2 linked regions of the Homo sapiens genome follow. The protein of the gene in region 1 purifies or fractionates together with the protein of each later gene. This does not show direct contact. Each region holds a gene or a part of one and is shown in the gene's direction. Other genes may lie near its edges. The genes, in order: CHGA and XPNPEP3.

What was found.
Region 2: the proteins of CHGA (region 1) and XPNPEP3 purify together in Homo sapiens (affinity purification with mass spectrometry; one large-scale study listed by BioGRID and IntAct). This does not show direct contact.

The regions. Positions count from the first base shown.
Region 1 is NC_000014.9:92,921,650-92,925,249, forward strand, and holds the start of CHGA (chromogranin-A isoform 1 preproprotein), read left to right. Parts: upstream 1-1,500; 5' UTR 1,501-1,710; coding exon 1,711-1,756; intron 1,757-2,549; coding exon 2,550-2,596; intron 2,597-3,600.
Region 2 is NC_000022.11:40,861,005-40,864,096, forward strand, and holds part of XPNPEP3 (xaa-Pro aminopeptidase 3), read left to right. Parts: exon of another isoform or gene 1-60; coding exon of another isoform or gene 61-990; exon of another isoform or gene 991-1,768; intron 1,769-3,092. Other genes in the region: DNAJB7 (dnaJ homolog subfamily B member 7), read right to left, coding at 61-990. UniProt on the Homo sapiens protein: Catalyzes the removal of a penultimate prolyl residue from the N-termini of peptides, such as Leu-Pro-Ala. Also shows low activity towards peptides with Ala or Ser at the P1 position.

The DNA.
Region 1 (3,600 bases):
AACTGCTGGGATTACAGGTGTAAACCACTGCGCCCAGCTGACCCACCCTATTTAAGTATAACCCCACCCTGTCTCAGCACAGCCGTCCCCTTCCGTGCTGACAAACTGTGGGTGTTACTTCTTATTCATTGTCTGTCTTCACCATCTAGAATGTAGGGCTTCTGTCTGTTCTGTTTAATGCTGTACCCTCAACTGTGTACTGTTCTAGGATGTTCTAAGCACATAGTAGGTGCTTAGCAAAGCAAATATGTAAATTCATGAATGTGGCCATTTCAGTCTCCTTTGAGCTCCCACCAGGTTCTCATTTAGGGACAGGCGTGAGCACAGGTGTGGGAAAGGAAGTATTAGTAGAAAACAGCAGCCGCAGATGGAGAGGGGTGGGCAGGAAGGAGGGGCTCTGGACGATGCCAGCCAATGACAAACCGTCACCCAGATCCCAGGTTCCCTGTGACAGTGGGGTCAGGTGGCAAAGAGCTTCCAACACGGCCCCCAGAGCTGGAGCCCAAAGAGCTGGAGCATCAGGGGCCCCAGAAATAAGGGAAGCCAACCAGGAAACTGACCTTTTACACAAAATATCCAGGTTTTGAGAATGCTCAGGAAGAGGTGAGAGCTGTTCTCAAATTCAGATGGGCTGCCAGTGGCAAGAAGGTGATGCTAAGGGGTTGCACTAGGGCTAATGGGTAGGTGTTGCAAGGACTCCTATTTTGGCGGATGTAATAAGAACTGGCCCCCACTCCTCCCTCTACCTAACAAGAGGTGTCCAACAGTGGCTTAAGCTTCCTGGTGAAAGTGAGCCCCTGGTTCCCGTGTGTATGCAGAGCCCAGGATTCACTCACCCATGGCTTGAACCTTTAATGGATACATTCATCAGTTACCTGTCAAGTGCGTTTCCTCTGTGCCAGATTGTGTGGCGCTCAGCACTGTGAAAGTAATGATGACTAAACATTATTCAAATAAATACACATTCAACAACAAAGTGTGAAGGCACAAAACTAGCTTGCCAGAGAGAGAGAAGCCTCACTCAGACAGGGGATCAAAGGCCCCTCTAGAGCCTCCTAGATATTGGAGAGAGCCATGAGTGATGGGCATGCCTCCAGCCTGTGAGACCGGGGGAGCATACCCCAGGCAGAGGGCACTTAGGAAAAATAGCACGGGGTGCTAGCGCTGCCAGGGACCTCAGTACACATGGAAGAAGGCAAGGTCCAGAGATCCGAGTGACTTGCCCAGGGACACAAGGCAAATCGGTGGAATCGTCGAGGGGTGGAGGATCAGCCACAGCCCCCCGCCTCCCACGCCACCTCTTGGAAACCAGATACCCGCCTCGCGGCCAAGACCCACCAGCTCCAAGCGGCGGAGGCCAGAGGTAGCGAGGGGTGAGGTTAGAGGTGGGGGCGAGCGGGGACTGGACACCTGGGGAGTGGGGAAAGGGGAAGGGGGCGGCACCGCTGACGTCATTTCCGGGGTCGGGGTATATAAGCGGGGCGCGAGGGCGCTGCTGCTGCCACCGCTCCTGCCACTGCAGTGCTCGAGCCCCGTGCAGGGGAGCTTGCGGGAGGATCGACCGACAGACGGACGCACGCCGAGGCACTGCGCCCCCAGCCCCGCGCCGGTGCCACCGCAGCCCGACCCCGGCCGCCAGTCCAGCCGCCCCTCGCCCGGTGCCTAGGTGCCCGGCCCCACACCGCCAGCTGCTCGGCGCCCGGGTCCGCCATGCGCTCCGCCGCTGTCCTGGCTCTTCTGCTCTGCGCCGGGCAAGGTGAGCGAGCGCGGGGAGCTCGCGGGAGAGGGTTCCGGGCGCCCCTGCCCACCTTGAGGTCCGGGCACCGCGCGGCGCCCCGCACCCCTCCACACTTCCCTTCGGGCGCGGCGAGTTTTCAGCACCGCGGACAGCGCCTCCGCCTCCCGCCTGACCCTGCAGTGTGGCCTCCGCCTGGGACCCACAAGACACTTGGGCCTGACTCCCAACCCCCCGGGGCAACTCCCCCTTGTGCCCACCCCTTGTCTGGGCTTGGCGCCTCGGTTGCATCAGGGCCAGTGCCGGTTGCGCGGTGGCCGGCCAAGGTCACTGCGGGGAGGTGGGAGCATGGCTGCTCGCAACCCTCCACCCCTCTTCCCCTTTCATCTCACGCTCCCCGCCTTTCTGCCCTTGACTTCTACTTCTCCATATCATCCCTCACAATCCCCTTCCTCCATCTCTTCCCCCGCCCCCCCCACCTCTGGGGTCTCTCTCCCCTTCGTCTGTCTCCCACCCGTCCCACTGTGCAGCTCTTGGCCTTGTTTGATGGCGCTCCCCGCTCCAAAGCACACCCGCTCCAGAGCAAGAGTTTCCAAAGGGGGAGGGGGAGGACCTCTCAGTGCAGCCTCTGGGGACCACCCCACTGTGGGCAGCAACCAGGGAAGGGAAACAAAATCAGCCCTAGCCTCTCTTTTTGGTGGGGGCAGTTTTGAGGGGTGGCATTGGGTGAACGGGCCCCAGTGAGCCCGGTCAGAAAGGACTGGCCTCCACTTGGAGCAGAGGAGTGACCCCAGCACTCTCTTCTTCTTCCCAGTCACTGCGCTCCCTGTGAACAGCCCTATGAATAAAGGGGATACCGAGGTAAGAAGGGGTGCTGGGGATGAGGGGTAGGAGGCTCCAGTGGACACTTCACAGCCAGTTCTTGGGCAGCTGCAGGAGTAAGTTCGGCATAAAGCCAAGAGCCAGCACTGCGGCTGCTGAGCCTGGGGACAGCTTGCAAAAGAAGATATCAAAGATTGCTTGCTTTCCCTGCTGTCCTGCTGTGGGGACTTCCCCAGCTTCCTCTGAGCTGCACATGCAGCGGAAGAGGCCTGCATCTTACCTGCTGGGCCGAGGTGCCTGGCTTCAGGCTGTCTTGAACACTCTGAATCCAGTAGGCTCCCCAGGGGCTGGTGGGGGTGGCTTCTCTGTAGTTGTAGTTGTCCACAGACCTGTAAAAATGGCCTTTGCCTGCCTGGCTCTGGCCTCCCCGCTTTGCTCTTTCTCCCTGAAAGGCTCTGCCAGTAACAACCCACACCCAGCAGGCTCTCCAGCCCTGGCTGTCCCAAAGGAACACAAGCAAAACATCTTGATCATGGCTCCTGCACCCACGGTCCCACCAATAGGGGCTAGTTGTGGAGGTCACCCAGGAAAGGGCCTTAGGAGACACTAGTAGGGGTTTCTCTGGCAGCAAGAGACACACCACGCTGGGTGTGTACTTGGAATTCATTCATGGCTGAGCTGGGGCTGTTTTTTCCAGGCTCTAGTGCTCATCCAAATCTCTGACTTGAGGGTCAGAGAAATTTCTACTCCCCACCTTCCCAGAAACTATTCTCTTCCACTAGACACCACAGTTAAAATCCAAACCATCCAAGAGATTCCAACCTCTGTTTGCTCAATTATATTTCCTATGTTTTAGTTGCAGATAGGACAGAATTTAAACCTCTACCACTCATTCTAGCTGTGTGACCTTGGGAAAATTCCTTAATTTCTCTGAGCTCCGCCTTTTTCTCCTTTTCCTTGAGGGGAGGTGTAAAGAGTAGGAATCATGGATGTGAATTGCCTAGCACATAATAGGTCCTCAGTAAATGGGCACTTTTATTCCT
Region 2 (3,092 bases), on another chromosome or scaffold:
TTTGTGATTAACCAAAACACACACAATTGTGTTCAAATGTTATATATTTGAAGAGTCAATTTAACAATTCCTTTTGGTAGACTTCTTTTGCACCTCTTTACGCTTCTTTTTTTTCCTCTTACCACCCTCTTTGACTCCTGCTGAGAAAATAGGGGGATCTCTGTTGCTGGTAACCCAAGATATACCTCCCTCATCATTGTCCACGAAAGTATATTGAGATACATGTTTGGAGCTGTGAGAATTTGGTGAATAGTTGTTGAATGACTGTGTTCTCCAGCTGCATTCTTTTGCAAAGCCCTCTTCATTGGCCACACTATTTACAAGAAAAAATGTCAACTCTCCATTATCTTCAGCTTCTCTTTCTTGATCACTTTCAATAATTTTCTTTGTATTAATATTTCTGCCATTAACGATTTTGTCTGAAGTTGTAACAGATATGTAGTTGTCCATCCCACTATTATCAAAAGCCAGGGAAGAGAAAGAAGTAAGGCCTTCATGCCCCAATGAACCCTGTGATGTATATCCTGTATCATATGAAGAAAATTTCTCAAAAATTGGATATTCACTGGCAGTGGAGAAAAAGTATCCTGCATCTCTGTTTCTGTTTCCATAGGAGCTTCCTGGACGATTTAACAGGTCCTCAAGCGAGTCTTCAAAGAAGTGAAAAGAAAATGGATCCCTTTCATGAAAAATTTCTTTAAAAACATCATCTGGCTTATGGAATGTGAAGCCGTACTCACATTCATCATCAAAATGACTTCCACCTCCGTTTAATCCTTCTGTGCCATATTTATCATAAATGTCCCGTTTCTCATCATTTGATAATACCTCGTATGCCTCAGCTACTTCTTTGAATTTTCTCTCTGCTTCTTCTTTATTTTCTGGATTTTTATCAGGGTGCCATTTAAGTGCCACTTTATGATAAGCTTTTTTAATGTCCTCAGGTGAAGCATATCTTTGCAGTCCTAGAACTTCATAGTAATCCACCATGTTTTAACAGATAGTTGGAAGTGGGTGTGCTGGGTATTGAGAACCGTGGTTTCCTCAGCTCAGGCTCTGCTGGTGGTGGTGATAGAGGTAGTGACTGCAAATAGGTACACTTTTATGTTAAAGACAATGTTATTACCATGTGCTAAGAGATGAGGATACTGATTATGTGGCAAGCAGAGTTACAAATATGTCAGAGAGGGCTGCATTATGGTGTCATTCTGGGGTCAGTGTAGGGACTGGACCTTCCAAATAGAGCTAGTCCAGAGTCGTACCAGACCATCCTGAATCCTCTGGACTGTTTCCCCTGTATGTTTCCCTGGAAGCTTCAGGCAGTGCCTCATAAGCCAATGGAATCTGTTGCTAATAGCCACAGCATATCCCTTGCATAATATGACCTCTAGATTACTGCGCCTTAATTGCTTCCCAGCTCTTCTATGCTTTGGTTTAGAAAAATGAAGTACTGACTTACGGGTGAAGAAAGTATTCAAACAGTTGACATATTTATTTCAGTCAAGAAACAGTTCAGAGGGAGATACAAACAAGTAACTTAGTTACAATATAATAGTTATGATGAGAGGAAGTACTGGATGCTAAACAATTATATGAGAGACAGCTCAGGCTGGGGGTGTCAATGAAAGCCTCTTGGAGGAAGTAGCCTGATATGTTAACTTTCTGCATGCCAGTGGTAAGTCATTTGAGATTATAGTATCTTTGTCCACCCAAGGTTTACTGCTGTAAAACATGTAATTAAAGATTTGGAAAGTTGTGTGTTTATGTATTCACTGTATAATTATTGATTGTCTACTTTGTGCCAGGCACCGTTTTAGCCACTGGTGATAGCAGTATTGAACAAAAGACACCAGTTTTCCTGGTGCTTGCATTATAATAGAATACAAATAGGAGAACAAATAAAATAATTTAAGATAATGCGATATGTGCTCCAAAAAAAATAGCAATGTGCTGGGGGCAGAGCGCTACTTTAGATTGGTTTTAGAAGGCTTCTGAGGAGATGACATTATTGCTGAGACCTATATGACAGTCAGCCACATAGTGATCTAATATGGTAGCCACTGGCCATGTTGATGGACATTTTGGTTGTTGCCAGTTGGGGCTGTTGGACATAAAGCTAGCACTTATTTCAAGTACAGTGGGAAGCCTTTGTGGGGAGTGGGGAATATGCAAGTTTAATGATGTGATTTACATTTGTAATGGATCAGTGGCTACTATTTGGAAATTCAGTCATGTATGGGAAAGTAGAATTCGAGAGCCAAATTAGAAACAGACCAAAGGTGATTTTCTTTGGGGATAAACTACCAGTAGTCTAGACCCGAATTTAAAGGTCTTATATTCTATACCTGGCTCATTTTATTGTCTGAGAAAATTCCCTGTAATCTTTGTTTTTCCTCCTCTATGTTGTGTTTATTTTATTTTCCATCACATTTATAACCCCTCAGTTAAATGATACGCTAATGAAATCTAAAACTGTAGTGTATGCTTCTAGTCTTTCAAGACCATTTGTCAGGTCTGAATATTTTTTTGCTTTGCATTTTTATATATACTCATTTTTTAGAGGTATTGTGAAATGCTTAAAACTCAATTTAAATTCTCTCCAGTGTATGTGCTTACATGTACTTATGTGTGGCTTACCCATGATTATAATTTGCCTACCACTGGAAATAATAACCAATAATGTCGAAAATTATTTGAGTACCCTCTGAGTCACACTGTAGCAAGTGCTCATTTAACTGACACAGCACTCTAGCAAAATAAATATTTTATGCCCATAAGAAAACAGACGTTCTGAGAGAGAAAGTAATTTGTCTAAGGCTACATAGCTTGTTAGTGAAAAATCTGATTTTTAAACTTGAGTCTAATTTCAAGTTCTCATTCCACTCTACTGCATTTCTCGGACTAGGACTTAAAGAGTTTAGGTTCTAGGCATTCCACAAACAGATACTGAGAACCTGCTGTTACCGGAAAGGGGTCCCAATCCAGACCCCAAGAGATGGTTCTTGGATCTCGTGCAAGAAAGAATTTCAGTGGAATCCACAGAGTAAAGTAAAAGCAAGTTTATTAAGAAAGTAAAGGAATAAAGAATGGCT